3 separate regions of the Homo sapiens genome follow, and all the other regions are linked to region 3. Evidence: fine-mapped expression QTL. A gene starts in region 3. Each other region holds a variant in brackets. All regions are shown on one strand. Distances are between the middles of the regions. Region 1 overlaps OR51E1 (olfactory receptor family 51 subfamily E member 1). Region 2 overlaps MMP26 (matrix metallopeptidase 26). Region 3 holds the start of OR51E2 (olfactory receptor family 51 subfamily E member 2).

What was found. PIP is the estimated chance that this variant, and not a neighbour inherited with it, causes the effect. A credible set is the group of variants that fine-mapping cannot tell apart.
Region 1: its variant is the best candidate, but not a certain one, in a credible set for the expression of OR51E2 in fibroblasts (GENCORD, PIP 0.51).
Region 2: its variant is the best candidate, but not a certain one, in a credible set for the expression of OR51E2 in prefrontal cortex (BrainSeq, PIP 0.51).

Annotation. Positions count from the first base shown.
Region 1 is chr11:4,644,233-4,652,764 of GRCh38, reverse strand. It overlaps OR51E1 (olfactory receptor family 51 subfamily E member 1), which reads right to left. Exons shown (of 2, transcript NM_152430.4): 2 at 1-277. The coding sequence starts at 238. Among named protein-coding and RNA genes, the nearest start is that of OR51E1, 4.5 kb to the right of the region's middle. The variant C/T (reference allele first, on the strand shown) is at 5,135.
Region 2 is chr11:4,744,406-4,752,937 of GRCh38, reverse strand. The region is part of intron 1 of MMP26 (matrix metallopeptidase 26); the gene reads right to left. It also overlaps the pseudogene OR51F4P. Among named protein-coding and RNA genes, the nearest start is that of OR51F1, 21 kb to the left of the region's middle. The variant G/T (reference allele first, on the strand shown) is at 4,333.
Region 3 is chr11:4,693,889-4,702,420 of GRCh38, reverse strand. OR51E2 (olfactory receptor family 51 subfamily E member 2) reads left to right here and starts at 4,568. Exons shown (of 2, transcript NM_030774.4): 1 at 4,568-4,768. It overlaps OR51C1 (olfactory receptor family 51 subfamily C member 1), which reads left to right and starts at 4,568. Exons shown (of 2, transcript NM_001396051.1): 1 at 4,568-4,768. The coding sequence starts at 4,760.

The DNA.
Region 1 (8,532 bases), 50 kb after region 3:
ATGAGGTGGAGATGAGGATGTCAATGCCTGAAAGCATGCAAAGAAATATATACATGGGCTCATGCAGGCTGTGCTCAGTCCGCACAATGTAGATGATTGTCAAGTTACCTAGCACAGCAATAAGGTAGAGGGAGCACAATGGGAAGGCCAACCAGAACTGAGCCTCTTCTAAACCAGGGAGGCCTATTAGGATGAAGTATGTAGCACTGGATTCATTGCCATTGGGATCCACCATCATGAAGAAGCTGAACTGTGACCAGCACCAGGCAGGTAGAGGCTGGAATGCAAAGATAAGCCACTGTCAGATCCATAAGCATCCCAATACCTAACACCTGACTCTATCCTGATGTACTGTTCTCTAACTCAAACTCTAAATCCATTCCTTATGCAAATTCTAATCATATTCTAAATGCAATCTCACATAATCTAACATAATTCAAGAACCAGACACAAATTCATCCAGTCCTACTTACTAACCCCATCTGTATTGTTAATCCTGACAGCAAGTGAAAGACTAAGACAAAAATTTTAAGCATATGCCAAACCATTTAGTTCTCCAAAGAAAGGCTACTGGCTGAATATAAAAGAATCTTAGGTGATAAAAATATCTCACCATTTCCTCTATCCTAGCTTACCTTTATGCTTCCCTATGCTTAATACTAACTGCAATTCTAAGCATATCATTAGACTATCTTTAAGAAAAAATTCCAGTCCAAGTGTAACAACACTAGTAGTAACAGATTAATACTGAAACCTAACCCCAGCATTAATCTAATGATCTCCCCAATTCTAGACTTAACCCTAACTTTAACATAACTTAATATTTGACCTTTTAATAACCATTTCAATCTTAAAGATCGAATTGATGATATTCAAGTCACAATTCATATTCTATTTTATTATGATAAACCGTAATCCAATAAAAAACTGACACTAAATTAATCCTGAACTCTAACTCTACATTACCTTCTTGTCCAAATGACCACCCAAAGCTTTACACTTGTCCAGACTACTCAGTTTATTTCAAATAAAGAATGATGGCTCTAGTGGATACCGTTCGTATCCCAGCCAGACCCCATTCACAAAGCCAATGTAACCATCTCCCATCTGCACTGAGCATTGAGTGCTAAGGGCTCACAGCTCCCCTTCTTTCCAGAGGATTGTCCTTGGTCAAATGGGAGGCACCTCACCCAGGAAGGTTACACTGTGCCCCCATGATGCACATCTAGAGGCCAGTGGCTGCCTGACATAAGGGGTACCAAAGGTGAGCCCCATTGCCTCTGGGTGCAACAAACACTTTGATGCAATTTGTACTTCAGAGCTTCCCAAGGAACCAGCCTGAGGCTTGTCTCCAGCTGAGACCACAGCCCTGCTTAGCTTTCTTCCCCTGCCCTACCAGGATTCCCTCCTTCTTCTTCTCATGGCCATGTACTCCCTCAATATGTCATTTGGACAAGAACCCCCACCTCAGGTTCTGCTTCTAGGAGACCCACCCAATCTAAGAAAGTGAGATTGATACAACTAGAATACTAACCCTGAGGGGTGATGGCATTAGAAGCACTGGAGGCATAATCAATCCTATAGCAGAATTCAGTCTGCAAACAAACTGAATCTGACTATAAAAATGATTTGATATTACTGAGGTGGAAAATGTCAGACTTGGGTCATCTCAGATTGTATGTGTCTGTTAAGAGTGAACTGATTCCCTCCCTCCCTCCCTTTCTTTCCTCCATCGACAAATATTCATGTGCTCCTACTATAGGGTAGCCCTTATCTTCAATGCTTGAAACCAGAAGTGTTTCCGATTTGGGATTTTTTTTTTTGAATATTTGCATTATACATACCCAGATCAGCATCCCTAATGCAAAAATCTGAAATTTGAAATGCTGCAGTGAGCATTCTCTTTGAGCATCATGTTGGTGCTCCAAAAGTTTCAGATTTTGGAGCATTTCAGATTTTGGATGTTTGGATTAGGGGTACTCAACCTGTATTTATTAGATCATGTGTATTGTAGTTTTTACATAGATTTGGCCCTTGAATGTTTGAGAGCTGGGATAGGGGTTTCTGCACTGGTTACCAGAAAGCAGCTGAGCATAAGTCAGAATTCATGGCCAGCATCAGAAGAGGTCCCATGGGCTCAGGGTGTGTCACAAATCTTTGTACCAGCATCAAGCGGTCACCCAGAGGTTTCCTCAGACCAGATAGAAATTAGTGGGAAAACAATGGGAGCATGAATAGTAGAACAGAGGGTGAGAGAGTTTAATTCAATCTGCTGGGAAGGGAAGTTTTAAGGCAGAGAAACCATATTTAAGCTAGAACTTCAGGCAAAGGGCCGAAGTCATCAATGTCCCTTCTCGCTGCTGCAGCTTCTCTGCAGCATGTGGCACCAGGAGCACTTTCCTCCTTCTTAGAGCTTCTCCCTCTCCTTTCTGCTGTTCCTCGGCTCTCTCTAATCACTAATTATTGGTTTCGTTTCTGGATCTTCACTCTCCTCTCCAAAATTGCATCTTCAGTGCTCTTCCTGTTCTATATTCTCTTCCTGGGCCATCTCATCCCCTTCAGTAAATCCATTTTTGTTATACAAACAATTGATCCCCAAACCTAGTTAATGAACCCTGAATTCTCTTTTGTAATCCAGGTTCATAATTCGGAAGACTTACTAAAAGGGTTCACCTAATTGTCTTTCAACTACATCAAACTCTCCATGTTCAAAAAACAAACTCTTTCAGAGGCAGTATTATATAGCCATTGAAACTATGATCTTTGAAATCAATCATGCATTCTAAACCCAGTCTAAAACCTCTAGAGCTGTATGATCTGGGGTAAATCATTTAACCTTTCTAAGCCTCAGCATCCTCATCATTAAAATGATTATAAGAGTCCCTGGCTAATAGGGGGTCAGTGTGAAGATTAAATGAGATGATAAATGTAAAGCACTTAACACAATACCTCACACATAGTAAGTATGCCAAAAATAATATCTGTTGCTGTTAACCATTTTCCTCCAGTGTTTCTTTTTTTCTGTTATGGTGGCGTGAACCATCATACAAGCCAGGTTCTCTGATCCTGACTGCCACGTCTCTAGGGTAACCTTCCTCATCCACAAAGTCCCAACAATCTAACCAGATGAAACCAGCTCGCTCCCTATTATTTTAAAAAATACCCTTGAAACTCCAAATTGATTCTAGAATAAAGACTAAACTTCTTATGACATGGCTAAAGATCTGACTTTCATCATCCGGGCCTGGGTTCCTCCCTCACCACTCCTCACCATGATCCCTATGATCTAGCCACATTGAAGTTCATGCTATTTCACAAACATAGCCTTGATTCCCATGACTCTGTGTCTTTCTGTCTTTTTTTACTTCTCATCCCCTTGTCAAGAAAAACTGTTCCTCCCAGATCTTCCTCCTTGACTTCCCACACTCATTGTTCACATCCTGGCTTACTGTCTCTCTCCTATACTATTTTTCCTAAGCCTTTTTTACCTAGGCATAATTAAATGCTTACTGTTCTGTGCTCAAAAAGAACATTATTTAGGTCTTTTTAAAGTATTTACCCTCTTGATAATAGTAACTATAATTATTGCTATATTTTCCCCTGAATTATGAGCTCCTGAACACCAGGAACCTTATTATATTTATTAATTGTTTAGTTAATGTTTTGGAAGATGAAAATGAGTTTTATCAACAGGAGAGTCTCTTAGTATACATCTAGTGAGGGTAACACAGCCAAGGGCATAGTTAAGACTGCCTGTTATCTGTACTAGAGAGACTTTTGAGAAGGATGAGATGATGTTTGGAAGGTCAGTGCAGAGTAATTTTAATTTTGTAAAAATAATCTTTAGGGTCAAACAGAAAAGTCCTTTCTTACCAAAGGAGCTGGAGGGCCAGAGAAATATGTATTAAAAAAAACAGAGCAGCTGCAAGGTCTTGGTCCTAATAAATGCAAAGTGGACATGCAGCACAATTTGTGCCTAAGAGCAGGATAGACCTAAGATCCCTCACCTGGAAACACTGGCAAGAAGGTTCTGGTACTCCAGAGGGTCAGATATCCATGCTATCCATCAGTTTTACATAAACAGATATGGCAGAGCAGGTTGATACTCAGGATTTAAAAAATGTGCTGTCTTAGGAAACACACTGGGAAAGAACTCTGGCTGGGCATATGCAACACTATTGCCTCTGAAGGTAGAGTGATGTGGTGAGCAGAATCCTGGGGCTTAGAACACAAGTCTTGGCGCTAAATAAATGCAGTGAATAATAATAACTGCATAGTGCTGCTGTGAAATTGTATGAGATAAGGCATGTCTAAAGAAATTGTAAAAACCAAATCGGAGTACACATAGTGCATTGTTTTCCACAAAAATGGGCAACAAGGTCTCTGAAAATGTATGAAATTTCATATACTTTTCAATTCCCCAAATTTGTCACCTTAATCACCACTTGGCCTGTATGTACACACTCATACACACACATATTTACTAGCAGTCAATTTCTCACAATAGCAAGACTGGGCACTGATACAAAGATACCAGAAATCAACAAAAGGAAGATTTAGCTGGCCTGGGAAGGAGGTGCCTAGGCAGTATAAAATGGGCAGCTATCGCTGGGGCTAAAATATCAGCCTGGACCCCAGAAGACTACAGCAGGAGAGAAATGAATGGATGGAGAAGGAGCCAGCCAGAGAGCTCAAGTGCCACCGTTCAGACTGGCCAGCCCTGAAGCGTCCCAATGTTCAACAGTCCCTCCACGAGACAGGCAGAGTGACCAGATGACTTCCAGGTGGCCTTCCAGCTTGAGCAGCTGTTAGTAATTAAAACTCAGTGAGATGGTTTTGAGCTCTGGAGGAACTTGGAACTAAATTATTTTGAAAATAAGGCACAATCAAGAAAAAATAAACTAACAAAGCATTTTTTTTTTAGAAAGCTCACACACTGCTCTAATCCCCAAGGAATAGCCCTGTGCTGAGATTTTCTGTGAATAAGTTGAACTATCTTAGCAAGTTCCAGGAATGTTTCTTCAGGAACTATGAAGGACATCTTAACCTTTTCTCAGGAATAGGGGAACAGGAGCTCCCAGCTGTAAAGACTGGAAATCCACGTGGAGGCCTTCAGTCCTCTCCCTTCCTTCCC[C/T]CGGGCTTCAGAACTCTGTCTCCTAATGCCAGCCCAGCCCCCCTCACCAGCCCATCCTCACATTCTTCCCTAGAACTCCTTCTCATAGACCCGTGAAAAAGCAGTCAGAGAGATAAACCAGACAGCAGGAGAGAAATGAAGGGATGGAGAGGAAGCCAGCCAGAGGGCCCAAGTGCCACCCTTCAGACTGGCCAGCCCTGAAGCATCCCAATGTTCCATAGTCCCTCCACAAGACAGGCAGAGGGACAGAAGACTTCCAGATGGCCTTCCAGCTTGAGCAGCTGTTAGTAATTAGAACTTAGTGAGATGGTACTCCAAAGGTGTACCATTAGCCTATTAGCCCTATCTCTTCTGACCCAAGAGAACAATGAGGTCACCTTTAACCCTGATTTTGTTGTTTTTATAATATGAACATAGATTATTGAGCACCTACAAAATGACAGAAACTATACAGTGCCATCTGTATAAATATTATCTCTAATCTGGGAACAGCTCTGCAGAAGGTGAGGGTGTTTAATTCAATCTGCTGGGAGGGAAAGTTTAAGGCAGAGAAACCGATTTAACCTAGAACTTCAGGCAAAGGGGCCAAAGTCATCAACATCCCTTCTTGCTGCACCATGGATCCTCTCTATATTATGGGTGAATACTATGGATCCTTTCTATATTATGGGTGAGAAAACTGAGGCTCCAAGACATTAAATAACATAACCAAAGTTTAACAGGTGACTGGTAATGCAGAAACTTAACCTAGATAGTCTCATACCAAGGCCTATACACTTTCCCTCATTCTAGGCTGCCTTTAATTTTGCTGCACCTTCTGAAAGCTAATAAAATCCACCCAAAAGGCAAGGTATAAGAAGGGCTTGGTAAGTAGCACAGCTGCCCTGGGTATACTCTTAGAAGGGAAACCAAGAGGGCTGCAAAGAAGACTCTTCTGCACTGGAACTTGGGACACTCACCTCCTCTTTCAGCCCTAACTCCAAAGGCTGTGAGGTGGGTAGGCCCCACAATGGAGATTAAAAGGCTTGTCCTCTACCACGTATTTCCTTATTATCTAATTAGAGCCTCTCATCCACCTGTCAAGCAGATATCATTAATCCCATTTGACAGATAAGGATGTTGAGGGTTAGTTAGAGCCCTTAGTGCTAAATCCATTGCTTTACAGTAGGCCAAGCTACTGCCCTACCCCTCCCCATGTCTCCTTAAGAAGGGACTTCGCTTTGTAAGCACTATTTCAATATTAATCTCTCAGGAATCCAACACTGATGACCCATGAGTCCAGGGGCCCCTCTCGGACTCAGGACACATGACCAGCTCTCCCCACTTAGGTTCAGTGTGGAAGGAGAACCAGGAGGAGATTCATTGTCAGTGTCACTATCTGGGCTAAACACACAGAATGTTTCATGCCCAGAGCAATGGAGTGAGGGCCTCTGGCGCTGCTGTCAGCCTCTGGGAATATTTAGAAAAGAATGTCCCTGGAGAGAAGCCCAGACATACCTGGGAGCCTCTGGCTCCTCATCCCAGGCACAGAGAGGGAAGGCAGACCTCAGGGGCAATGCTGTGGCTGGCAAGGACTGGAGGAGCTTGTCACTTGATTCTTAAATAGAGTCCCTTCCCTAACACTTAGTGAGGGTAGTAGCCCCAGCATGACTTCCACTCAAATTATCTGCATCCACTGTGCCCCACACCTTGCTTGTATTTAATAAAGCAGATGAACCCTTGCAAGGTGTTGGTCACTCTTCTTAAAATGGCCAAGATGAAAATGGAAAGATGAGAGAGAGCAACTTCTAACTCCCAAAAAGCCAAGTGAGCCCTCACCCCACCCTGGTCACTCAAGTCAGCCTGACCACCTAAAATCACCCCTAGGCAGAGTTCCTAGGTTTCAGGTCTCTGCTCCTCCACTTCCTGAGTAGGACCAGATAAGTGTTCTAAAGATCTGCAAAGCTGCACCTAGTTACCAGTTCCCTGTAGAGCTATTCTGGCTGCAAGCAAATGTAAGGCAAGGGAAATGCCCAAAGTGGGATTTTGATCAGTGTACTCATTTTTTCAATAATCATTGACGGACTTCTGTGCCAGACTCCACTGAGTACCAGAGATATCGTTCCAGCCTTCCAAGGATGGGGAGAAATTGAGACAAATATGCAGCCATCACAGCACATTATGATAAATTCTGGGACAAGGGGAAGCAAAAGGGCCTCAGAAGCAAAGACAACAATAGCTCAGCAAGCTTTTTAGGTTCCAAGGGCTTCCCTGAGGAGGTGACATTTAAGCCATGGCAGTGGCGGGACCTGCTGCAGGCAGGTAATGGGGCAGTGACACAGGCAGTTAATGGGGTGGGGCACAGCAGCATTCGGTTAGACAACAAAAACATATTGAGTGTCAAAAACTGGAGATGAAACAGTAGATAAATCAGACAAGATGATGGCTTTTATGGAGCTCATATAACACGAGGCCAATAATGAGAAGTAAACAAATAAAATTTCAGTTGAAGATAAGGGCACGAAAGAAAGAGTGATAGGACAGAGGAAGATGGGTGCAGGACACTCATACTGGAGACAGGGGTCAGAAAAAGCCTCTCTTAAGGATGTGACATGTGATGAGAAAACACCAGCCATTCTAAGATCCAGGGAAAGTGCATTCCAACTGTGGGAGACAGCAAGAGAAAAGCGTCCCCCAGCAAGAATGATATTGGGGGATTCATGGAACAAAAGGAAGGTCAAGGTGGCCAGAGCATCAAGAGCACAACAGAGTTTGAGAAGATGAGGCGGGAGGAAGGCAAGGACCTCATCAGGTAACAGGGTCTTGCAGGGTATGGCAAGGAGCTTTGGTTTAATTCTGAGTGACTTGGGGGAATTTCAGCAACAGAACTTATCTAGTTTGTTTTTAAAAATACATCCTGGCTAATACAAAGAGCCAGAGAGAAAGAGAACAGACCTTGTTTGGAAAGCTGAAAGTGACTTAGTGTAGCTAGGGTAAAGAGTACAAGGCAAGGGGTGTTGCCGTGTGGACACTAATCTACTTTTTAAATGGGCTGAAGACTGAATCCTGATCCTAGACACAGACCAAGCTGAGATCGGAGCCCCAGGAAGATTACTAAGTCCCAGTCTCAGCCACAGCCTGACTCCTGATGTACAGCATACAGTGAAACCAACCTCACTCAGAGCCCCACTTCCACCCCAGCTGCAGCCTCATCCCCAGTCATAGACTGAGCTTCAACCACGTTCACCCTGTTCACACACCAAACCCCGACCCAACCCCAATGCAGCCCCAGTCTAACCCCAGCCCAGCCTGTCCTCTGTCCTCTGTCCTCATTCACATCAGCCCCTGCCAGCCTCCAGATGGGCATACTAGTAAACTAATCACTGAAAAACTGCTTGAAAACTACCCTTAGGCTACCT
Region 2 (8,532 bases), 51 kb before region 3:
TGACGGGGATCCCTGGACTTGAATGGGCCCATGTCTGGATCTCCATCCCCATCTGCTGCCTCTATTTAACTGCCCTTTCTGGGAATACCCTGATCCTTTTTGTCATCCTCACTGAGCCAACCCTCCATGAGACCATGTACTATTTCCTCTCCATGTTGTCCACCACTGACATTGGCTTACGTATTTCTACACTGGTGACAGTGCTGGGAATATTCTGGCTCAATGCTCGGGAGATCAGCTTTAACACTTGTTTATCACAGATGTTCTTCATTCACCTCTTCACTTTCATGGAATCTTCAGTGCTCCTGGCTATGGCCTTTGATCATTTTGTGGCCATTTCTAACCCTTTAAGATATGCTACCATTCTAACTCATGCAAGAATAGCACAGATTGGTTTGGCAGTCATTACCAGGGGGACTGTCATTTTGACACCACTAATCCTACTTCTTAAGTGACTGTCATTATGCCGCAGCCACGTGCTCTGCCACTCCTACTGTTTCCACCCTGATGTGATGAAACTCTCATGTTCAGACACAAAGATCAACAGTGCACTACGATTAAGTGCAATCATCTCTACTGCCGGAGTGGACTCCATCTTTATCTTGCTCTCCTATCTGCTGATCATTCGCTCAGGTCTCAGCATTGCATCCCCAGAGGAGAGGAAGAAGGCCTTCAGCACCTGCATTTCTCATATCACTGCTGTTGGCATATTCTACATCCCTTTGATCAGCCTGTCCTTTGTTCACAGATTTGGAAAACATGCCCCACCCTATGTGCCCACCCCCATTGCTAACGTATACTTGCTCATCCCCTCTGTGATGAATCCCCCATCATCTACAGTGTGAAAACAAAGCAGATTCAGAAAGCTGTGCTCAAATTTGTATGTTCCAAGGGAATTCATATTTAACATGTACTACTCCTATAAAGGCTTATTTCAAAGTCTAGAAAATTTACCACAAATTGGAATTATAAACCCATGCATGCAATTTTAGAGTTGAGTGAAACTAAATGCCATCCAATTCAAATGTCTCCACAATGTAATTATCATTGCTAAGCAATCTCTTTTCTACCATCAAAATACTAATTCAGATTCTCACTATCTTAGTTACCTTGTTCCAACAGATGACTAACTGAATTAATGCTTCTATGCTGTTTCTGCTCAACAATCACATGATTCACTTTGAATTAAGATTCCAAATATCCAGCCCTAAGAACATTTTAAAAAGAAACAAATAAATATATATTTTATTTTTATTTCATATGCACCAACTAAATGAAGCAGCAAATCCTGTCTATGGTAATTTCCTCAACAATTTAGGCTTAAACTTTCTTTAAAGTTTCATTCACTTTTTTCTCTTTTCCCATACTCTACAGTCTAAAAATGCCAGTCTGCTTACGACTTCTTCAAATGCATGCAGTTTTTTCATGGTGGACTTTACTGTTGACTCCACTTCAACTTTAACATCCACTTCACTGTGAAGTTCTACTTAGGTTTCAAGGCTCATCTTTAAATATCTTCCTCATTAAATATTTTATGATTGCTCCAGTGATATTTGTTCTCTCCTCATAATTTTCATATTGCTTTGTTCATATCAGTTTTGCCTTTATATGTGTGCACACCTGTGTGTACATTATTATAGCTTTCACAAGACTGTACATTTCCTAAATAAAAAGTCTTGATTTTATTTGAAGGCTCTGTAATACTCAGCAGAACACCTTTCACATAGTAGATACTTATTGATAGTTGTTGAATTGAACTATACAGAAAAACCTATCGAATAATCTATCTAAACAATTCCAGTGATAACTCCCTTGATTCAATACTTGACATGTGTAACACAAGAAATTTCTCTTTCAACTGAGTAAAATTTTTCTGCCTATATTATCTGGTAATTGATCATAGTTCTAACTTTCCAAACTGCATAGTTGAATGGCTATTATGGAACTTTAGGTCTCAGAAAGTTGTCCCCGTTTGGTCCCACATCCAATAAATCTGTATTTCTTGTCTATTCTTTAAAAAAAAATAGATTTAGGGGGCAAAGTTTTGTTACATGGATATATTGCATAGTGCTGAAGTCTGGGCTTTTAGTATAGGCGTCATACAAATAGAGTACCTTACACCCATTAAATCATTTCTCCTCCCCTATCCCACTTCCACCCTCCTACCCTTCCCAGTTACCAATGTCTATTATTTCACTCTAAACGGCCATATGTGCACATTATTTATCCCCTACTTATAAGTGAGAACATGCAGTATTTTACTTTCTGTTTCTGAGTTATTTCATTTAAGATAATGTCCTCTAGTCCCATCAATGTTACTGCAAAAAACATCACTTCATTCTTTTTTATGACTGAGTATGATTCCATGGTATACACTCACCACGTTTTCTTTATCCAGTCATCCACTGTTGGACACTTACAGTTATTCCATATTTTACTATTGTGAAGAGTACTGTGATAAACACATGAATACAGGTTTTAAAAATATATAATAATTTATGTTCCCTTGGGAAACTACTCAGTAGTGGAATTGCCAGCTCAAATAGTAGTTCAATTTTTAGTTCCTTGAGAAATAGCCAAGTAGTTTTCCATAGAGGTACTGGTAATTTACATTCCCACCAACAGTGTGTAAATGTTCTCTTTTCTCCACATCCTCACAAACATCTGTTATTTTTTGACATTTTAATAATAGCCCTTCTGATAGGTATCCATTGTGGTTTTAATCTGCACTTCTCTGATGATTAGTGGTGTTGAGCAATTTTCATAAGCTTGTTGGCCATTTGTATGTCTTCTTTAGAAAACTGTCTGTTAATGTCCTTTGCCCACGTTTTAATAGTTATTTGTTATTGGTTGTTGTTGAGATGTTTGAATTCCTCGTAGATTCTGAATATTAGTCATTTGTTAGATGCACAATTGGTAAATATTTTCTCCCCTTCTGCAAGTTATCTGTTCACTCTGTTGATTAATTTCTTTTGCTGGGCAGAAGCTTCATAGTTTAATTAAGTCCCCTTTATCTATTTTTGTTTCTGTTGCATTTGCTTTTGAGGTCTTAGTCATGAACTCCTTGCCAAGGCAAATGTCCATAAAAGTTTTTCCTAGCTTTTCTTCTAGTGTTTTTATAAATTCAGGTCTTACATTTGAGTCTTTATTCCATCTTGAGTTAAATTTTGTATATGGTGAGAGATAGGTGTCCAGATTCATTCTGCATATTGGCAATCCAATTTTCCCAGCACCATTTATTTAATAGGGTTTCTGTCCTTTCCCCAGTGTATGTTTTTGTCAACACTGTCACAGATCAGCCGGCTGTAGATATGTGGCTTTATTTCTGGGTTCTCTAATCTGTTTAATTGGTCAATGTGTCTATTTTTATACCAGTACTATGCTCTTTTGCTTACTATAGCCTTGTAGTACAATTTGAAGTCAAGTAATGTGATGCCTACAACTTTGTTCTTTTTGCTTAGGATTCTTTTGGCTATTCAGGCTCCTTTTTTATAAGAATTTTAGATTTTTTTTTAATTCTGTGAAAAAAATGATTTTTGTAATTTGTTAGGTATTACATTGAATCTGCAGATTGCTTTGGCAGTATGGTCATTTTAACAATCCTGATTTTTTGATCCATGATTATGGGATATTTTTCCATTTGTTTGTATCATCTACATTTTTTTCCTCAGCATTTTGTAGTTTTCCTTGAAGAGATCTTTCACCTCCTCGATTAAATGAATTCCTACATATTCTTTGTAGCTATTATAAATGAGGTTGAGTTCTTAATTTGGTTCTCAGCTAGATAGCTATTGTTATTTAGAAATGCTACTGATTTTTGTATGTTGATTTTGTATCCTGAAACTTTACTGAATGTATTTATCAAATCTAGGAGTCTTTTGGTGGAGTCTTTAGAATTTTCTAGGTATATGATCATATCATCATCAAATAGAGATAATTTGATTTCCTCTTTTCCAATTTTGATGCATTTCATTTTTTCTCTTGCCTGATTGCTCTGACTAGGACTTCCAGTACTATTTTGAATAAAAGTGGTGAAAGTAGGCATCCTTGCCTTGTTTCAGTTCTTAGAGAAAATGTTTTCAACTTTTCCCCATTCAATATGATGTTGGCTGCAGGTTTGTCATACGTGGCTTTTATCATTTTCAGGTATGTTCCTTCTATGCCTAGTTTCTTGAGGGTTTTTTTCACGAACTCATGCTGAATTTTATCAATTGCTTATTCTGCAACTATTGCCGTGATCATATTTTTTTTAAAAAAAGTCTGCTTATGTGGTGAATCATACTTACTGATTTGCCTACGTTGCGACATCCTTGAATCTGTGGAATAAAACCC[G/T]CTTCATTGTTGTGTTTTTTTTTTTTTTTGATGTGCTGTTTGATTCAGTTTGCTAGTATTTTGTTAAGAATTTTTGCATCTATATTCATCAGGGATATTTATCTGTAGTTTTATTTTCATGTGTGTACATGCCTGGCTTTGGTATTGGTGATACAGTCTGCATAAAATGAGTTAGGGGTAATTCCCCCCTCCTTGATTTTTTGGAACAGTTTTAGTTGGATTGGTACCAACTCTTCTTTCTGTGTCTGGTAGAATTTGGCTGTTAATCCATCTGGTTCTGGATTTTTCTTATTTGTAAGATTTTTTATTACTGATTCAATCTTACTAATCGATATTAGTCTGTTCGGTTTTCTATTTCTTTCTGGTTCAGTCTTTGGAGGTTATATTTCCAGGAATGTATTCATTTCCTTGAGGATTTCTAGTTTGTGAGTGTAGAGTTGCTCATAGTAGTTTGTGATGATCTTTTGTATTTCTATGATATCAATTGTAATGTCTCCTTTTTCATTTCTGAGTGTACTTATTTGAATTTCCTCTCTTCTTTTGTTGGTTAGTCTAGCTAGTTGTCTATCAGTTTTTTTATTTTTTCAAAGAACCACCTTTTAATTTTGTTGATTGTTTGTATTGTTCTTTTGGTATTAATTCCATTTAGTTCTGCTCAGATCTTTGTAATTTATTTTCTCCTGCTAGCTTTGGTTCCATTTGTTCTTGTTTTTCTAGTTTCTTGATGTATGATGTTAGGTTAACTTGTGATCTTTCTATTCTTTTGATGCAGGCATTTAATGCTATAAAACTCTCTCTCAGTACTGTTTTTGCTGTATGCCAGAGGTTTTCTTATGTTGCCTATTTTAACACCAAAATATCTTATCTTCACTTTTGGTCTCAGTTTAGGCATCAAAATCCTTTGCCTAAATCAGTTTCCTTAGAGTTCTCTAGGTCTCCAATCTTACCTTTTTCCTCCTTCTGTTTTCCATAAAACATAAAGACCTCTTTAAAAGGTTTTTAATGAAATATTAATATACAAAAAAAAGTTCTCATTAATGAAATATATTTTAGAAAAGGCCAACATCTACCTTGCTATATTCCCCCAAACCCACTCTCTTTCTGACTTCTCTATAGAGGTAACCATTGCACAGTTTTGATTTTTATCCTTTCTTTTTATATTTATATGCATAGATATGGAAAAATAAAATTTAAAACAAATTTTATCCTTTGTATTTCAGATAGTAACAGAGTTTCTTAAGGACACTTTTCCTGTTATTTAAATACTGCATAAAACCAACTAAAGAAACTTGCTCATTACCCAGAATTCCTATGGATCTCACTGTCCCTTCATATTTTCTGTTCAACACTTTCCCAGCTATTAGCCCTCTGTGGTTTCAAACCCTACTGGCTAATTCTCTATACCTCTGTCATATCTATTTGGTAAGCTCATTCTGACTGCTACTTCGTTTAGACATAGAAATGCTGTAGAATGCTATATCTAAGGATTACTTCCTCAGGGTCCACTTGCATCAACCAGTTACTAAGAACCCTACCGCAATTACTCTAGCTTATTGCCAGGATCAATGACCTGGGATTTGGCAGTCTGGTTCACCCTACCCTACTTCAAACATTCATTTTTTACAAATAAGGATAAAATGTGTCACATTTTACAACACTAAACATCCAGCTCAAAGTTTTGTGGCCTTAAGAACTGAGACCAAGAACATTATTCCAATGTATAGCCTTTGTGTGTGTGTGTGTGTGTGTGTGTGTGTGTGTGTGTGTGTGTGTGACAGAGACTTACTCTTGTTGCCCAGGCTGGAGTGCAATGGCACAATCTCAGCTCACTGCAACCTCCACCTCTCTGGTTCAAGTGATTCTCCTGCCTCTGCCTCCCGAGTAACTGGGATTACAGGTGCCCACCACCAAACCCGGCTAATTTTTGTATTTTTAGCAGAGACGGGGTTTCACCTTGTTGGCCCGGCTGGTCTCAAACTCCTGACCTCGTGATCCACCCACCAGCCTCCCAAAGTACTGGGATTACAGGCGTGAGCCACCATGCCCGGCCCCAATTTATATTCTTATTCATCTTTAACAACAGCATGTATTTAGCGCCTACTGTAAATCAAGTAGTGAGATGGATATTGAGAATACAAACATGAACAAGACTAGCTTCTTGCCTTAAGAATACTTAATGCCTAGTGAGGAATATAATTTGCAAAGATATAATTTAAAAAATATTTACTATATAGATTTACCTTCTTTCAAGAAATCTCAATAAAGAACACAACTATTGGATAATTCCTATTACAAGAACTTTAACCAGTAATTCTACTTTACTGCAACCATGGTATAAAATCAAAAACTACTTGACATAGAAATAGGAAGAAAGAACACTAAAATGATAGAAATCACTAAAAGTGAGAATTAATAATGTGAGAAAATACTCGAAATGATAATGCAAGTCAATGGGAACATAAGATTGACTATGAAAATTTTAATTGGCATTCAAATTTTGATAATGGCATCACTTGTCTATGAAGTGTTTTCCAAAGGTTAATCCATAGTCTGAATACATAACAACTATAGTACAAGGCCAAACACATAATTATTGCTTGAGGATCTTGTTAAAAATTTGGATTCCTGATACATCTCTACCAGGGAATATTATTCGGCATTAAAATTAGCTATCAAGCCATGAAAAGACATTAAAGAAACTTAAATACTTACTACTAGGTGGAAAAACATTTTGAAAGGACTGTATACTGTATAACTCCAACTATATGACATCCTGGAAAAGGCAAAACTTTGGAGATATTATAAAAATCAATGGTTTCCAGGAGTGGGGAGGGAGATATAGGAGAATAGACAGAGCACAGAGGACTTTTTAGGGCAATGGAACTATTCTGCATGACACTACAATGGAAGGTATGTATCATTACACATGCATCAAATCCATAGAACATACAACACCAACAGTAAACCATAATTTAAACTGGATTAGTGGTGATAATTTCTTGTCAATGTTGCCTCATAGATAGTGACGAACGTACAAATGTACCACTCCACTGGGAGATATTATGGAGGGGTAGGATGTGCATGTGGCGCTGGGAGGCATATATGGGAATTCTGTACTTTCTGCTAAATTTTGCTGTGAACCTAAAACTTATCTAACAAAGTCTATTAAAATGCAGGATTCTGGGCCCTAGCATCTGAATATTTTGTTTTACTAGTTCTGGGATGAGGCCTGAGAATTTGTATTTATAGTAAGATTTCCAAAGTATACCTGATACTCAGCCAGTCTGGGAAGCCACTGAGCTACAAATGCAACCGTATATTTCTTTGTTGTTTATTATTCCAAATCTAAAACATATTCGTTTTGATCTTTGTCTGTGGGGAAGAAAAATATTTATTTTGGTGGAACAACCGGGTGTGAAACCAAGAATATCAAGTGGCTTCAGTGGTTTCCTTCCCAAAGGAGGTAAGAAAACTATATGTGTACACTTTTTATATTAGTCAAAATTTATAATTTTCATAACATCGAATTTTAATAAGTCATAGCAAGTCAAAAAAGAAACATCTCAGTAATTGCAATACATGAAACTATGTATAATAAATTCTGGAGATCTGATGTATAGCATGGAGACTATATTAATTATATTGTATTGCATACTGTCTTTGATAAGAGACTGCATATTAAATCTTCTTATCACAAAATATAAAGAAGAAGAGGTGATTATGGAAGGTCATAGATAGGTTAATAACCTTCATTGTGATAATCATTTCACAATGTATATGTATATCAAAACATCACACTCTACACTGCACATATATATAATTTTTAGCAATTGTCCCTTAATAAATCTAATAAAATTTTTTTAAAGAAGAAAAGAAACCACACGGGAGAATAAGTAGATTTGGGCATGCAGAATGACTCCAAAGCACAAAGGCAAAACAAGCAAATACAATTTATCAGAAAGATCCCTTAAGAATAAGTTTTTTTGTGGGGCGAGGTAAATGATCCTCATAGGGCTGAGTTCCTCATAAATATCCTCTATTCTGGGAGCTGAATTGGACCTCAGAGCCCTGCCTCTTCCTCATCCTCTTCACTGAATGTAAGTACAGGGGCATCCAAGAGACAATGGTCATGCATTAACGTTAGACGATTTATGTTGACTCATTTTGCAGGAAGAGAATTGTCTTTAAAAGAGAATATAT
Region 3 (8,532 bases):
TTGCAGTGCCCTAATTTGGTCCTCAGTCCGCCAAGCAGATGAAACACCACAGCAGCTGACCATGCCTGGAACATTTCCTTAACCTTCTGTCATCTCCTCACCCTACTCTACTCTCCTGCCCTCATTACTAGCTCCCCTGTCAAAACCCTTTTCACTCACTCGGATCTCATATTATCAATTACATTTGGTTAGCCTCCCTTGATCACACAGGCTAACTTGTCCCAGCACCTAGGTGATCTATACCAGCACTTCACAAATATGAATGGCACATTAATGCGCTAGGTATCTTGCAAAAGCGCAGGTTCTAATTCAGAAGATCTAATTTTCTTTTCATTTCCAACAAGTTTCCAGGCGATGCTAACATTATTGGTCCTTCAATAGCAAAGATCTCTGTGAATACCACTTGTAGAGTAATTATAATACAGTATTTTAATTTCCCATTTACTTATTTGTATCCCCCATTAGACTTCGAACTGTGTAATATTTGGGTTGATATCTATCGTGTTCACTGTTATACCCTCAGGATCTTGTTCAATACCAGATATATGTAGAGTATCTATACAATATTTCTCTTAATAAATCAATTAAGAACTTTAATGAAAGCATGTGCAACAAGATATAGTGGGAGCAGAGAAGAATGGAATAAATAGGAATATTAGGAATAGCTAGAAGTTCACAGGGAGAGGTAAGGAGGAGTGACATTTCTATATACACCAAAATTGAATGGTCAGTGTTAGCCATATCAACGGGGTAGGAAAACTGCTAAATCCAACATGGCTGGATCCAGGAAAAGAGGTGAGTGAGGCTTTCATCAGACCATGGAGGGCTAGTAGGCCATATGGAGTTCTAATAATTTTTCTGAACAGTAGTATAAACAAAATGGTTTTTGACTTAGTGTCTTAATCTATTTCCTCTTGCTATAACAGAATACCAAATACTAGGTAATTTGTGAAGGAAAGAAGTATATTTAGCTCACAGTTCTGGAGGCTAGGAAATTCAAAAGCATGGTGCCAGCCTCTGGAGAGAGGTTTTGTGCTGCCATTACATGGTGGAGGGCATCACATGGCAAAAGGGCAAGGGCATTTGTGTCAGCCCAGATCTCTTTTTCTTCTTATAAATCCACCAGTCCCATCATGATGACCTTATCTGATCCAACTTATCTCCCAAAGTCTTCATATCTAATCAAGATATGACTTTGGGAATTAAATTTCCAACATGGGAGACATATTCAAACAGTAACACACAGCAACCCGTTTTCGTTGCTGTTGTTATTGTTTGTTCTCTTTTAAGTTTATTTCTACAATTTCAATGCATTAACCCTGGATTACCTGTTTTGCCTCTGGCCTCTTGCTCCTGTATCAAACCCTGTTTCTTTTATATCTTAAACTGTTTGCTCCTTGTGCTAGTCTTAGCCCTGAAACTTGTTTTTCTATTTCCTGATCAAGCATGACCATCCACTTGAGCTGGTATATGCACAAATTTTAAAGGTTGCATAACATCCCAGGACTCGATATAAATGCTTTATATATTCTGTATCATTGAGAATTTTTATCTATATTTTTTACCACTGTAAATAATGGGGCAATAAATTTTCCTGTACATAAAATATGGCCTGCATCTCTGATATCTTCCTTTCAATAAATTCTTAGAAATGGAATATTATGGACATTTTAAGACAACAATATACTGGAAAATATGCTTCCAGAAAGTTCATGCAAACATTGTAAAACAATGCTTAGTCCACTGTAACACAGCAACACAACACTATGTATTATGTGTTTTAAAAAACATTTGCTGATTTGATAGCCAAGAATATTTTACTGTTTACCGTAGTAAATGTTGACAGTCAATAAATAAGACTTACTTCAAGTTCCTAGTGCAGAGTTTTCCTATGTCCAATTTGGTACTTCCTGTTTGGATTACCAAGTTTCAGAAACATTAATATGAAGTCAAATGACATCACAGACTATGATATGTTTCCTGGACTCAATGGAGTTAATATTAATGTATTAATAAGATGTGTTGCTGTATGATTTCATGGAGGAACATTGAACTCAAATTTTCAGAAAGTTTAGTTAAATTACCAGCTACTGTTCTGCTAGGCTGGCATGAGAATAGGGCAGTGAGAAGAGCCATATTTTGACGTAGTGTGCCAGTGTGTGTATTGGTGCTTTAACCAGTACACACACTAGTTTCATTTTCATGTACTAAGCTCTGGCACAGAATTTACATGGTACCACTATAGTAACTTTATTTTTCTTATAAGAGTAACATTCTTTCAACCATAAGAATAAAAATATGTGACTATTCCCAAATAGTTTCTGAGACTAATGGGAAAAGAGTCACAGCCCTACAATTTGCCCAACTTGGTAGAGAAAGTGTTTTCAAAGGTCTCAAGAAGTTTCCTGTGCGGAAACACAACAATAAAATACCTTTATGTGCAAGGAATAAGCATGCACAAGTGACAACCTGTTAACATTCAGTTTGGCACATCAGCATGCATGCAGGCTTTTGGGTGTAGATGACTCAAATTGAAAGTAGTGGTGAATGGATAGTCATGTGAAGACTGTTTAGAAAATGAGTTTTGAAAACTGAGAGGGTGTCAGATAGCCGAGGCTTTGAATACTACTTGTGCCATTTATAACTGAGAAACTTAGGTAAGTTACTTACACTCTAATTTTTGGTTTAAACATGGTTTAAGACATAAATCAAACTAATAATGGATTCTTCTACTGAATTTATTATTGTAGAGTTGTGTAAGTCAAAAGTTGACATGGATCTCACTGAGCTAAAATCAAGGAATCACCAGGCTGCATTTCTTTATGGAGGGGCTAGGGAAAAATCAATTATCTTCTTTTCTCCTTCTGGAGGCTTTCCACATTCCTTGGCTTGTAGCCTCCTTCTGCCATCTTCAAAGCCAGCAACAGTGGATCAAATCCTTCTCATGCTGCCATCTCTCTGGTTCTCTACTTTTAAAGACCCGTGTGACTATATTGGATCCACCCAGCTAATCCATCTAATCTTGCCATCTCAAGTTATTTAACTTTAATCACATCTGCAAAGTCCCTTTGCAATGTAAGGTGACATATTCACAGGTTCCAGGCATTAAGACATAGGTATCTTTAGGGGCCATTATCCTGTCTACCACAAACACTTGGCCTAGTATCATGGATGTAGAATGCATAATAAAATATTATTGTTCTTGTTATTTATTGTTTTTATTACATTATGAAGAAGAAAATATCTCAGGCCATGACATTTTCAGTAGTGAAACAGATTTGATAGTGGAGAGGAGATAATATCGGAAGCAGGGAGAATGGTTAGGAAACTACTGAAGTTACCCAAGTGAGAGATAATTGTGACTTAAATAAAGGTGACATTTCTGGAGATGATAAACAGTGATCAATTTCTGATTGTATTTTTCAAAGAGATTGACATAATTTACCAATGGATTAAATGCAGGGTGTAAGAGACAGAAACTGAGAATGAATCAAAGACCCATATGCCCAAGTGTGGTCCAAATTGGTGGGAATATCTAAGGATCTAAAGAGGCCATAAGGAGAAAAGATGGACAACTTATAGCAATCTATGCATTCTATTTATTAAAGACTAATGAGAGTGATAGTAAACTGACAGAAGGTGACATCATTGGCCAAGTCAATCACCCACCTACCTGCAATTTTTCTTGGTATAATACAAGATTTTCAAAATTTGACTATAAGTAGAGAGAACCCCAAATTATTGTGACTAATTCTCTTCAACCTGGTAGGTTGGGACTTCAAAATACGAAATAGGTCAAATTATAAAAAAGTAAATGAAACCGTATTTTATACACAAGTAAGTTGTGAACCAAGATTTTTACCTACTGTATTCACCAAGCATTTGGTTCATGCCTCTAGGATAACCTTATCATTGGTTAACATGTAATTATTGGTTAACCTGTCTATCTTCTACACTAAAATCCTAAACAGTAAGAATTATGGTGTATTCTTAAAAAAAAAAACTCTATCACTGAGTATAATGTTTAGAATATGGGACATTCTTATGAAATATTTACTGGATATATGTATGGATGAGTAAATGAATTATTTTTTATCTGTAAGAGAAAGACTGCTGCTGCAAAGAACCACAGGTGGGCTAATGAAACCATACTGCTGTGAATAATCATAGATACTGAGGAGTTAAGGGGTGGAGTTGGACTCTCACTCATAATGGGAGATGTCATTTAGCAATTTGCTACAATATTTCGTTTTTTAAAATCTCCTTCAGAGTGACTGCTAGTGATTATGAGGTTCCTTTTAAGGGTAATAAAAAATGTTCTAAAATTGAATTGTGATGATGGTTCTTGCACAGTTCTGTGACTTTACTAAAAAAAATTGAATCATACACTATAAATGGGTGAATTTTATAGTATGTGAATGATATAACAATAAAGCTGTTAAATAAAAAAGCTTTTGAGTGAAATGACACATGAAAAAAAGGTTACATCAGCCCATAAAGCACATAGCCACCGTAAGTAATTGCATAATGGAACAGATATAAAAGGACTGTATGAGGCAAAAGAAGTCTTCTGGGAATCTCCACACCCTGAAGACACAGTGAGTTAGCACCACCACCAGGAATTGGCCTTTCAGCTCTGTGCCTGTCTCCAGTCAGGCTGGAATAAGTCTCCTCATATTTGCAAGCTCGGCCCTCCCCTGGAATCTAAAGCCTCCTCAGCCTTCTGAGTCAGCCTGAAAGGAACAGGCCGAACTGCTGTATGGGCTCTGTAAGTAAAACTGTTTTGTTCAATGAAAATGCTTGACTCTAGATGAATTGGACTTTCTCACCCACAGGGAGTAATTTCCTCACAATGTGCAGAATTAGATTAGATGTTGGTATGGTGGGCTGAGGAGGACGGTAGAATTTCAGAATTATTTATTCCCAGGAAATACGTAGAGAATGGGTATTTCGTTCTGCCTGATATAGGTTAGATAACTTGTTTTTAGTCAAATGGTTTAATCAGTGTGCTGATATATTTATCACAGTCAGTGAATCTCATTTCTATGCCCAATAACTATTACTAAAAATGAAAAGTTACCAATTTCGAACGCATTGCCTGCCAGCTACTGGTATTAGACACAGCGCATATCCTGTCTTATAGATGAGGAAACTGGGTCACAGAAAGTTTATATTACTTGTAGATTTCAGTAAAACAATTGTTTTTGAGAGCACGAGCTTTGGAATTAAAAAGACCTGAGTTAAAAATTCAGCTCTGACTTTCACCAGTTGTATGTGATTTCAAATATGTTTCAGACTTCTGATACTCAGTGTCTTTACCAGAAAAATGAATTTAAAGTGAATCTAATAATACTTGTCACATGATGACATAGTAAGAATTAAAATAATGCTTATAAAGCACTGAGGACAATAATGTTCACAGAACACGTGTCCAGTAAATGGTAGCTATTTCTATGAGTAATATTTTTATTAATGGTGTAGATGGTCTCAAAACTAGTTAGTGTTTGAGCAAGAATCTGAACCCAGGTCAGTCACACATGATAGCCATACCATTGACAATAGCATGGAGAATACTGATGACACTATAAGGTCTAGTTCAGCAGATTAAGACAGCCACAAGCTATAGCTTATAATAGTGCAATGAAAGAGGAGCATCATTGTAATCCGAGTGGGCAGAAAAATTAGTTGAGAGAATATAGCTTATTTCACAAGAGAGAAAATGAAAGTATATATGGATTGGAGAGGATGGGTCGGAAAGATTCTAGAGTGAAGGCAGCACAAAAGAGAAGCTTGGGGGAAATTTAGTGCCTCCTTCTAAGGATATTCATTAGTCCCCCTCTTGTCTTGAATATAAACACTTAAGATTTTTTCAATGTAAGAAAAATGCAATGAAATAATAGCTGCAAATACCCACTACTAACAATTGCTTGGCCTTCTTATATAGACCTCCCGAGGTTCTCATCTTTTACATTTCAGGAGTAGAATCAGTTAAAAACTAATCTTTATATGTAAGGGATGAGAGAGAGAAAGAGGAGGGTATGTGTGTGCACACATGTGTGTGTGTGTGGTGGGTAGTAATTTTAATTCAATGATTTACTAGAGTTCGATGTCGTTTGCTGATAAATGAAGCAGGAGGAAGAGCCAGGTTTGGAGGGGACGAGAGAATGAGTTCCATTTGTCTCATATAGAAGTTGAAGTAACTGAGTGATGATGGGTAGAGATGTCCCTCAGGGGTAGCCACAGTATTTTATTTACTTTTTATTCACCACATGCAGCAAGGAGCTTTGTTCTCCAAAATGCTGTCAATTATTTTTCTAAATTACAGGTTTGATTGCTTCACTGTATTTTCATGTCTCATTACTACCTTTACGCTTAAAACCAGAAACTTTGCCACAGCGTTAAAGATTCTGCTAACTTTTAAAATACAGAACTCTGGAGATGCCATAATTAGATTGCAGATTTATGAGTCTTCTGGATATAAGTGCTATTTAAAGCCATGAGAATAACCAAGATATCTCAAGGAGAGCATATGAAAAGCAAGAAAAGAAGAGGTACTTCTTGGGAGAAAAGCAGACTCCTCTAGAATCCCACAATTTATAAGGCAGAGAACAAAACCATTGTTTAACAAACAGGAAAAAAAAAAACCTCACAGAATAACCATCACTGAAGCTAATGAAGGAGAAAGTTTCAAGGAGGAGGAGGTAAACATTGCTGAAAGTTGAGATGAGGGAGAGAAAAACAAATCTGAGATTAAACTTTTGGACTTGGCATGTAGAAAATCACGGGTGACATCATTTGGAGGATTTTCAGAGTCATTAGGGAAAGAATTCAGATTGTTACTGAAGGTGAAGGAATAATAAACAAAAGCAGACTGTTCTCCAAAGGAATTTTTATCCTTATAAAAGATACAGCAGGAAATTGAGAGAGAAACAGGGCTTATGTCTTGTATCCCTCACTATCAAAGCACAAGGCTAATTATGAAAACTATTCAATATATCCTGGTTGAAATGAATTGTTTGGAAATATCTATACAAAACTGTGGGAAGCTTTTATTGTTGAGTTAGAGTAAAACTTGAGTATTGCAGACTTCAAAAAAGCAACCAATGGCACTAAACAAGATACTAAAGAGGGAAAGGAATTTTGTTGGCATTAAATGAGAAGAGATGGAAAATGATTTATTTATTAAAAGCAAAGCTCCTTGCTTCCAGTGGTCAATAAAAGGTGAATAAAATGTTAGAAATGTCTGGCTCTTGATGCTCTGCAAAAATTTAAGTTCATTACACTGTCCATGGAATTCAAGATTTTCATGATTTGACCTCTGGTGCTTTCTCTAGCTTCATTTCCCACAGCACCTAGCCTCACATTTAAGACTTCGATATACCCCTTCTCTTGTAGTTATCCAACAAACTGGCTTATGTTATTCTTTCATTCATGTCTCTCCTCATTTTATCAACGGCACTGCAAAAGCACACTTCCCCTGTTTTTCATCCTTATAAACTCACATTTACCCATCAAAACTTCACACAGTTATAAAGCATACATTCTGTTAACATTCTTGGAACTAGTTCTTCTTGACACACACAGACACATTCATGTATGCACACACTCCAAATCTGCCACTCCACACTATTATCTCTTCTGCCTTATCAATTAGATACATCCTATCCTTATACACTCTACAACTAGTAGCATTTATCTGTTTGTTTCTGTTACTGCTGATAGACGCTGTCTGGCATGTAGTAGATATTTAAAATTAGTCATTTTTTATTTTCAGTAAGAGTCCCTAGACTCTTGACACAGCAAGCTCAGCTCCCTGCATATGTGTGTGTGTGTGTGTGTGTGTGTATATATATATGTATGTGTGTGTGTATATATATATACGTATATATGTGTGTGTGTATATATATATATGTGTGTGTATATATATATATACACGTATATATATGTATAGTTTAGTTCAGTTTGAACTGAACTAAGTGTTTCTGGTTGATAGGAGCTAAAGTGGAGTTATTGGCTAGGAAAAAGAATAAGGTACCCTCTGTCTCTGAGCCCAGCGTGAACGTAGGAAGGATGCAGGAAGATATGCTTGTAAAGTGATGGAAAGGAGAGAAGTCATTTTTTTTTTGCTAGGCCCAACACAGATCAGGTCAAAATATATACACTATGGTTTTCTTTTGTTTTGTTTATGATCTCTTGGCAAGAAGGAGGAAAAAAACTACCAAGAAGAATGAAAATAGGCAATGAATAAATTGTTGAAATGAGGTAATGGGAGATATGAAGAAGTTAGGATGAAAGAGAAATTATTCAAATAGCAATTTAATTTTTTTAAGTGGTTACATAAAATGTCCTACAACACAATGACAAAAATTACAACTCAGATATTGCGTAGGAACTAAAAATCATGAAAGCCAGAATTAATTGACATAAATGGAGCCCCTCTGTACTTTCATAACCATTTTTATTATTCATCGCTGTATATGAGATATTGAAATTATTGAAAAACGGTTCTGCTCTTTCTGCCTCACTGGATTA